Linked DNA regions of Homo sapiens: region 2 is linked to region 1. The links come from fine-mapping of genetic effects on gene expression. A gene starts in region 1. The other region holds a variant in brackets. All regions are shown on one strand. Distances are from middle to middle.

What was found. PIP is the estimated chance that this variant, and not a neighbour inherited with it, causes the effect. A credible set is the group of variants that fine-mapping cannot tell apart.
Region 2: its variant is the best candidate, but not a certain one, in a credible set for the expression of NIPA2 in monocytes (TOPMed, PIP 0.52).

What each region holds. Positions count from the first base shown.
Region 1 is chr15:22,836,443-22,840,960 of GRCh38, reverse strand. It overlaps NIPA2 (NIPA magnesium transporter 2), which reads right to left and starts at 2,295. Exons shown (of 8, transcript NM_030922.7): 1 at 2,040-2,295; 2 at 1,171-1,306. RefSeq lists an enhancer at 2,169-2,398.
Region 2 is chr15:22,857,136-22,861,135 of GRCh38, reverse strand. NIPA2 (NIPA magnesium transporter 2) reads right to left here. Exons shown (of 8, transcript NM_030922.7): 6 at 2,506-2,596; 7 at 347-507. Among named protein-coding and RNA genes, the nearest start is that of NIPA2, 20 kb to the right of the region's middle. The variant C/T (reference allele first, on the strand shown) is at 1,798.

The sequences.
Region 1 (4,518 bases):
GCAATCAAATAAATCAGTTTAAATGAAGCTTACACCATCTATAAAAAAATGTAATATTCAAAGTCATGTGTTTTAAATATGAGTAAACCATATTTACCTATTAAAAACATTCTGAAAATATGTGAAATTCTTTTTATTATCTCTCCCTAACAATAGCTACCACTTACTGAACACCTCCCCAGGCACTATTCCATGCATCATTTCTACTCATTTCTCTTCTACGCAATAAGATGAAGGTATCACTTTACAGCTAAGGAAACCTCCCAGGGGTAAAAAAGAGTCACATGCAGAGGACCACACAGAAAGGGACTTTACTTCTACACCCGGCTGCCCACATTACATTAACACTTTAGAGCTCTTAGGTCGGGCGCGGTGGCTCACGCCTGTAATCCCAGCACTTTGGGGGGTCGAGGCGGGCGGATCACCTGAGGTCAGGAGTTAAGAGACCAGCCTGGCCAACAAGGTGAAACCCCCGTCTCTACTAAAAATACAAAAATTAGCTGGGCGTGGTCGCCGGCGCCTGTAACCCCAGCTACTCCGGAGGCTGAGGCAGGAGAACCGCTTGAACCCAGGAGGCGGAGGTTGCAGTGAGCAGAGATCGTGCCACTGCACTCCAGCCCGAGTGACAGAGCAAGATTCCATCTCAAAAAAAAAAAAACAAAAAAAAAAACTATATATAGAGCTCTTAGTTTTCTACGAAATCTTTACTACCTGGTTTCCACTGCTATCTAAGTTAGCTTAGGCCCGGCTCGGTGGCTCACACCTGTAATCCCCGCACTTTGGAGGCCAAGGTGGTTGGATCGCTTAAGTCCAGAATTAGGAGACCAGCCGGTGTAACATGGTGAAACCCCGGTTCTAAAAAAAATACAAAAATTAGCCAGGCATGGTGCCGCACGTCTGTGGTCCCAGCTGCTGGGGAGGCTGAGGTGGGAGGAGCACTTGAGCCCGGGAGGCGGAAGTTGCAGTGAGCCCAGATTGCACCGTCTAGCCTGGGGACAGAGCAAGACCTTGGCTCAGAAAAATTAAATACATGTTAGATTTAATTTTTTCCAACCTCTCACTTGGCTAATAATTTTTCAAAGCAGTACTGTACTTATAAATATTACAGAACCTAAATCTCCAACCCTAACTATGCAACAATATTAGTTATAAATTACAATTTTAACTTACATGTAAGTTTAATATGGTCTCTCTTATGAAAAAAAGGCTGGGAGAGGTTAGAGATGACTTATTCACTCTCATTTCCTCGTAAATACCACCCTTTATTCTCATTTAAAGTCTTAAACCCTGGCCGAGTAGCTCCAGCCTAGAAAGAAGAAAACACAGAAGTAGGCAAAAGACTTAAAGTTACTAAGTACGTTTTATAATTTGGTTACTAGCCTTCATACTCATTTTGCCAACCAATCAACATAAAACCTACTCAATCGAGCACAACTACTGCTTCGACAGGCAGCTTACTGGAATGGAAACTCTCGACTCTGATATTTCCTCTTACTAAAAAAAGTATTAACCGGGCACATGGCTATACACAGGATTTCTAGAAACAGAACTTAACATGCAGTCCTGTATTAAATGAACTAACAACCTAGAAAAGAAATTAAGGAGGCACAAACACCAAACTAAACACACAGTTTTGAGCAATTGTATAGAGAGGGAAATAGGATTCCGTGATTTTATAAAAGGAAATTAAAACAGTCAGGCTCAAAACGTCACAGCAGACTTCTAAGGCTTGTTTAACTGTCAGTTATGATCCCCGCAGCAGCTGAAGCCACCTTCTAAAACTCACCAAGACAAATGAAATTATTTTAATGAACTTAATGAACATGCGTCCCCGACATGGCCAACGAGCCAGGCTTCCGTGGGACTGAACGGCAATCCGATTCACGGTGGGTTTCCTCACTGAGGATTACAGGAAAACCGCTTCAGAACACCCGGAAAGGAAAGTTGCCCGAAGAACCCTTCTCCGACACAAGGCGGGCTGGCTCGCCACCAAGTCAGCCCCTTCGCGCTTGCCTGAAAGGAAGGAGTGGCGACCTCACCCTAGTCGGCCGGCCGGCCGCGCGGCTTCCCCTCGCCGGCGCAGCCTTGGGCACCGCGGCTCACACCCCCACACAGGCCGCCCAGTCCTGCGCTCGCACGGCCACCGCCTTCGTCGCCGTCCAGTGGGAGATGCGAGCATTCGGGGCTGAAGCCGTTCGCACCGCCTCCTCCATGGAGAAGCGCCGAGGAAAACCTGCCAAGGACAACCTCCGGCACCGCCGTCACCACCGCTGCCGGGACCTAGGGCCGGCGCCGGAAAACCTAGGCGCGGCTAAATGACGCAAGAGGCCTCGCGCGCACGCGCAGTGCCGCACCACGTACACCCCGCCCCCGGGGCTCTCTCCCGCCGGGTTCCGGTTCCTTTACAAGGCCCCAGTCGGCTGAGCGCGGAGGGCGGGGCGCGTAGAGTGTGGGGACGGGGGCGGGGCGCAGGATCCAGGCGGGACCTGGCGAGGGACGAAGCTGGAAGCGTAGTTAAGCAGTACAGTATGCTGCCAGGTGGCGTTGGCCGATCAGTTCAAAATCAAACTCCGGCGTGGCCCTTATTTAAAACGAGGATTCCGGGCCCGGCGCTGTGGCTCACGCCTGTAATCCCAGCACTTTGGGAGACCAAGGCGGGCGGATCCCGAGGTCAGCAGATCGAGACCATCCTGGCTAACACGGTGAAACCCCGCCCCTACTAAAAATACAAAAAATTAGCCGGGCGTGGTGGCGGGTGCTTGTAGTCCCAGCTACTCGGGACACTGAGGCAGGAGAAGGGCGCGAACCCGGGAGGCGGAGCTTGCAGTGATCGGAGATCCCGCCACTGCACTCCAGCCTGGGCGACAGAGCGAGACTCCGTCTCAAAAAAAAATAGAATAAATGAGGGTTCCGGCCGGGCGCGGTGGCTCACACCTGTAATCACAGCACTTTGGGAGGCCGAGGCGGGCAGATCACGAGGTCAGGAGTTCGAGACCAACGTGACCAACATGGGGAAACCGCATCTCTACTAAAAATACAAAAATTAGCTGGACGTGTTGGTGCGCGCCAGTAATCTCAGCTACTCCAGAGGCTGAGGCAGGGGAATCGCTTGAACTCGGGAGGCGGAGGTTGCAGTGAGCCGAGATCAGCCACTGCACTCCACCTGGGCGACAGAGCGAGACTCCTTCTCAAAAATAAATAAATAAATAAAATAAAATGAGGGTTCCCAGGGGCAGTCACAGTGTGAAGCTGCATTTAATTGGTGTCCCCGGGCGATGCCAAAGGGGAACAGAGCTCCCAAGAGGGCAAGAAGCGGGGGAAAGGGTGGGTCCAAAGCTGGGGGCGGGACGGGGCGGGGCCGAAATAGCTGTGGTAGTTCGACGACCGCTGGGCCCTTCCTTACTGACCCGGTCGCGGAATAGATGTGAGGTTGACGTTTGGTGAAAGCCCGCCTCGAGACACTGAGAGCAGATTGATTGAATGATTGATTTTGAGACAGAGTCTCGCTCTGTCGCCAGACTGGAGTGCAGTGGCACGATCTCGGCTCACTGCAAACTCCGCCTCCCCGGTTCAAGCGATTCTCCTGCCTCAGCCTCCCGAATAGCTGGGACTGTAGGCGCGCGCCGCCACGCCCGGCTAATTTTTTTTTTTTTTTAAGACGGAGTCTTTCTTGTCACCCAGGCTGGAGCGCAGTGACACGATCTCGGCTCACTGCAACCTCTGCCTCCTGGGTTCAATGAAGCCATTCTCCTGCCTCAGCCTCCCCAGTAGCTGGGATTACAGGTGCACACCACCACGCCCAGCTAATTTTTGTATTTTTAGTAGAGATGGGGTTTCACCATGTTGGCCAGGCTGGTTTCGAACTCCTGACCTCGTGATCCGCCCGCCTCGGCCTCCCAAAGTGCTGGGATTACAGGTGTGAGCCACCACACCCAGCCAATTTTTGCATTTTTATTAGAGACAGGGTTTCACCATGTTGGCCAGGATGGTCTCGATCTCTTGACCTCGTGATTCACCCGCCTCAGCCTCCCAAAGCGCAGATTTATTTTTCATGAGATGTATAGGAAACTAACTGTTAGGCTATCCTGCCTTGGCTCCTCCTGGAAAGGAGAAATTCCTTGGGATCCACCAACGTGGTTTCTGCAAAAGTAGTCAAAGACAGAGCTCATTTGTAAGAAGCAAAGAGTAGCCAGCTAGAGTTAGATCTCCTAGTAAATCAATGATTCCTTGGTTGCAGGTGTAGAGTCCCTTAGGAATGTTGTTCCAGGTTGTGACTAGACACAAAAACACTATTATATGAAATTCAAATCATGTGGGGGGAGGATCTTTATAAAATGAATTATGCACTTTTTGAAACAAAACACCAAATATCATTTGTCCTTTTCAGGCTCTAATCCTATTGGACTGTTGTGTTCTAGACTGTATACACAGCCCCTGACCACTCTGGTTTTGGTTTAGGTCACTATGCAGCTTCTAATTTTAAAGCTTTTAATCTGCCGTGAGCCTAGCAATCATCTT
Region 2 (4,000 bases), 20 kb before region 1:
ACAACCATAATAAAGACTAAGATGACAATAAAAGTTATGTATCAATGATAATGTAAACAATCTCAAGAAAACTATATAGGTACAGTAAATAAAAGGTAAAACAGATAATGCCTAAAGCTAAGGAAGTAAGTAGTAGCAATATACGCACACTACTTACAAACACAGAGTTAAAGAACAGTAGAAACACAGGCTTGGGATTGATAGGAGGGAGCAGGGAACATGACGACAATTTGTTCTTCTACCAGGTGGAACAATTTCTTTCCTTATGTGCTCATCAAATTTCGATTAAAGTAAAAACTAAGTTAAAAAGTAAAATACAGTAAGACTAATAAGACTTTTTTCTTACCTGGATCACCTAGCTTGTGAGACATTTCATTTAAAGTCTCAATCTCCTCTTCCTTTGGAGCATGAATGACCATAACTGTAGATCCTAGAATACTTAGCAAACACCCAATTTTCCCATGAAGATTAAGTCTTTCATTGAGAAAGTATGAAGAAAGAATGGCACTAAAATGGGGAGGAAAAAAAATTGAGAACTTTAATCAGCTACTTTCCTTTTTCAAATATCAATAAAACTCGTAATTTAAATCACTGAAATCAAACTAAAACACTGTGAACTTATGAAGATTCTGGCTTTCGCCAAGGAAAAAAAGTATACATTTCATCATAAAATGTAAACATTTCTAGGGAATCATCTGCTTCATCATACACTACACCTGTATACTTACCATCTTTCCACTGCAAGAAGTCAGTATGAAATTTATAATAAAGAACAAATTTGTATACATTTATATCCTAATTAAGAACCTATATCCAGGCCAGGCAGAGTGCCTCACGCCTGTAATCCCAGCACTTTGGGAGGCCAAGGTGCGCGGGTCACCTCAGGTCAGGAGTTCAAGCCCAGCCTGGCCAACATGGTGAAACCCCATCTCTACTAAAAATACAAAAATCAGTCAGGCATGGTGGCGGGCATCCTGTAATCCCAGCTACTCGGGAGGCTGGGGCAGGACCTAGAAGGCAGAGGTTGCAGCGAGCTGACATCGCGCCACTGCACTCCAGCCTGGGTGACACAGTGAAACTCCATCTCCAAAGGAAAAAAAAAAAAAAAAGAATCTCTATCCAAACCACCAGTGCTTAAAATTTACTCAACTTATTCCTATTGGTTGATGCATGCACCCCTCTTATGTTGTTAATTGTATATAATTTGCCTATTACATTATCAGGTTTTAATAACTTGTAGCTAGTTTTATCTAGACCTAAAAAGAAAATACAGCATAAACCAATAAATACAGTAACAAAATACTACAAAGAAAATTAAGGGTAAAGGGCAATGACTTATACCATAACCCTGTTTTACATATAGTTTTTTGGGGAAAAAAAAACAGATAAAAATCAGTCAATCTACTTTGGGAATAGTAACCAAGATCCAGACATCAATATGGGCTTAGTTGTTTGGGCTAATCATTACAAAGCAGAAATGGGACAAATCTCAGATCACTCATTCAAAACAAGCACTCCAGGCCAGGCATGCAAATCTACTCATTGGCCGGGCACAGTGGCTCACGCCTGTAATCCCAACACTTTGGGAGGCCAAGGCGGGTGGATCACGAGGTCAGGACATCGAGACCATCCTGGCTAACATGGTGAAACCACATCTCTACTAAAAATACAAAACATTAGCCAGGTGTGGTGGCGGGTGCCTGTAGTCCCAGCTACTCGGGAGGCTGTGGCAGGAGAATGGTGTGAACCCGGGAGGTGGAGCTTGCAGGGAGCCGAGATCGTGCCACTGCACTCCAG[C/T]GTGGGCGACAGAGCAAGACTCCGCCTCAAAAAAAAAAAAAAAAAAAAGAAAAAGAAATCTACTCATTACCAACCAGACCCTACCAAAGTGCACATGCACTGAATGATAAATACTGGGATGAGTGTAACTTTGAATTTTACTTATTTTTTATTTATTTATTTTTTGAGACAGAGTCTCGCTCTATAGCCCAGGGTGGAGTGCAGTGGTGCTATCTCGGGTCATTGCAACCTCCTCTTCCTGCGTTCAAGCCATTCTCCTGTCTCAGCCTCCTGAGTAGCTGGGACTACAGGTGCCCGCCACCACGCCCAGCTAATTTTTGTATTTTTAGTAGAGACAGGGTTTTACCATGTTAGGCTGGTCTCAAACTTCTGACCTCAGGTGATCCACCCGTCTTGGCCTCCCAAAATGCTGGGATTACAGGCATGAGCCACTGTTCCCAGCCAACTTTGAATATTAAAAAACTGAAATCGAAGTAGAACTAGTACTGGCTCTGAATACAAGCAAGACAAAGCATTTTCTCCCACAAATCAATAGCCTGCCTATGCACAGAAGTAACTTTTTAAAAGCAATTACTACGTAGTGTAAAAAGCGAAGTTCTCCAGGTTGTTGAAATGTAAATTGTGTTGAACATATTTAATTAGATGGTACTGAATATTTTAGAAACTAAGATACCGACTACTGTTTCTACATGAAAAACGTGTCCTTACCTTACTAGCACGCTGAGAGCTCCTAGTGGAGTCACTAGAGTGGCTGGTGCAAACGCATACGCAGCGAAGTTGGCCACCTCACCAGCTCCCACTTAGAGACAGACAACAAAAGAAAAACTCAGGTAAGAATGTATGTACTCAACTTGGAAATGCCGGCATTTTATGCACTATCTATATATTATTTCAACTGTATTTAGTAACCTCCATATTTTTCCAATTTATTATTTTTATTTTTTTGAGACGGAGTCTCACTCTGTCGCCCAGGCTGCAGTGCAGTGGTGTGATCTCAACTCACTGCGAGCTCCGCCTCCCGGGTTCACGCCATTCTCCTGCCTCAGCCTCCCAAGTAGCTGGGACCGCAGGCACTCGCCACTATGCCCAGCTAATTTTTTTGTATTTTTAGTAGAGACGGAGTTTCACCGTGTTAGCCAGGATGGTCTTGATCTCCTGACCTCGTGATCTGCCCGCCTCGGCCTCCCAAAGTGCTGGGATTACAGGCGTGAGCCACTGCGCCCAGCCTCTCCAATTTATTAATAAGGGTTATGGGTCTGTAAATTTCTATTACAGTAAGAGTCCAAGTCAATTAGAAACATTCTAGAAACAACACATATCTGTAAATCTAACGGAAGAAATCTAGCTCATGCTGACATAAGGCATTTTAATAAAAATTTTAAATAGATACTTATATCCCAGGACAGTAAATAAAAATCACTGAGAAGAAGCCGACATGAAGGTAAAGGTACTCTTCCCCCAAGTCCTTTTCATTTGGTCCTTTTTTTTTTTTTTTTTTTTTTGAGATGGAGTCTTGCTCTATCGCCCAGGCTGGAATGCAGTGGCACGATCTCAGCTCACTGCAACCTCCACCTCCCGGGTTCAAGCAATTCTCCTGCCTCGGCCTCCCGAGTAGCTGGGACTACAGGCGGGCGCCACCATGCCCAGGTAATTTTTATATTTTTAGTAGAGACGGGGTTTCACCATGTTGACCAGGCTGGTCTTGAACTCCTGACCTCAAATGATCCACCCACCTCAGCCTCCCAAAGTGCTGGGATTATAGGCGTGAGCCACCGTGCCCAGCTTGCTCTTTTTAAAAATGCAAATCATGCTATACACCAGGTCCTGTTCTAGAATCAGGATATACAGCAGGGTGCAAAACAAAGACATTGCTCTGATAAAACTTTTTTTTTTTTTTTGAGACAGAGTCTCGCTCTGTCGCCCAGTCTGCACTGCAATGGCGTGCGTGATCTTGGCTCACTACAACCTCCACCTCCCAAGTTAAAGCGATTCTCCTGCCTCAGCCTCCCAAGTAGCTGGGATTACAGGCCCACATACCCGCCACCACACCCGGCTGATTTTTGTATTTTTAGTAGAGACAGGGTTTCACCATGTTGGTCAGGCTGGTCTTGAACTCCTGACCTAAGGTGATCCACCCGCCTCAGCCTCCCAAAGTGCTGGGATTACAGGCGTGAGCCACCACGCCCAGCCTCTCATAAAACTT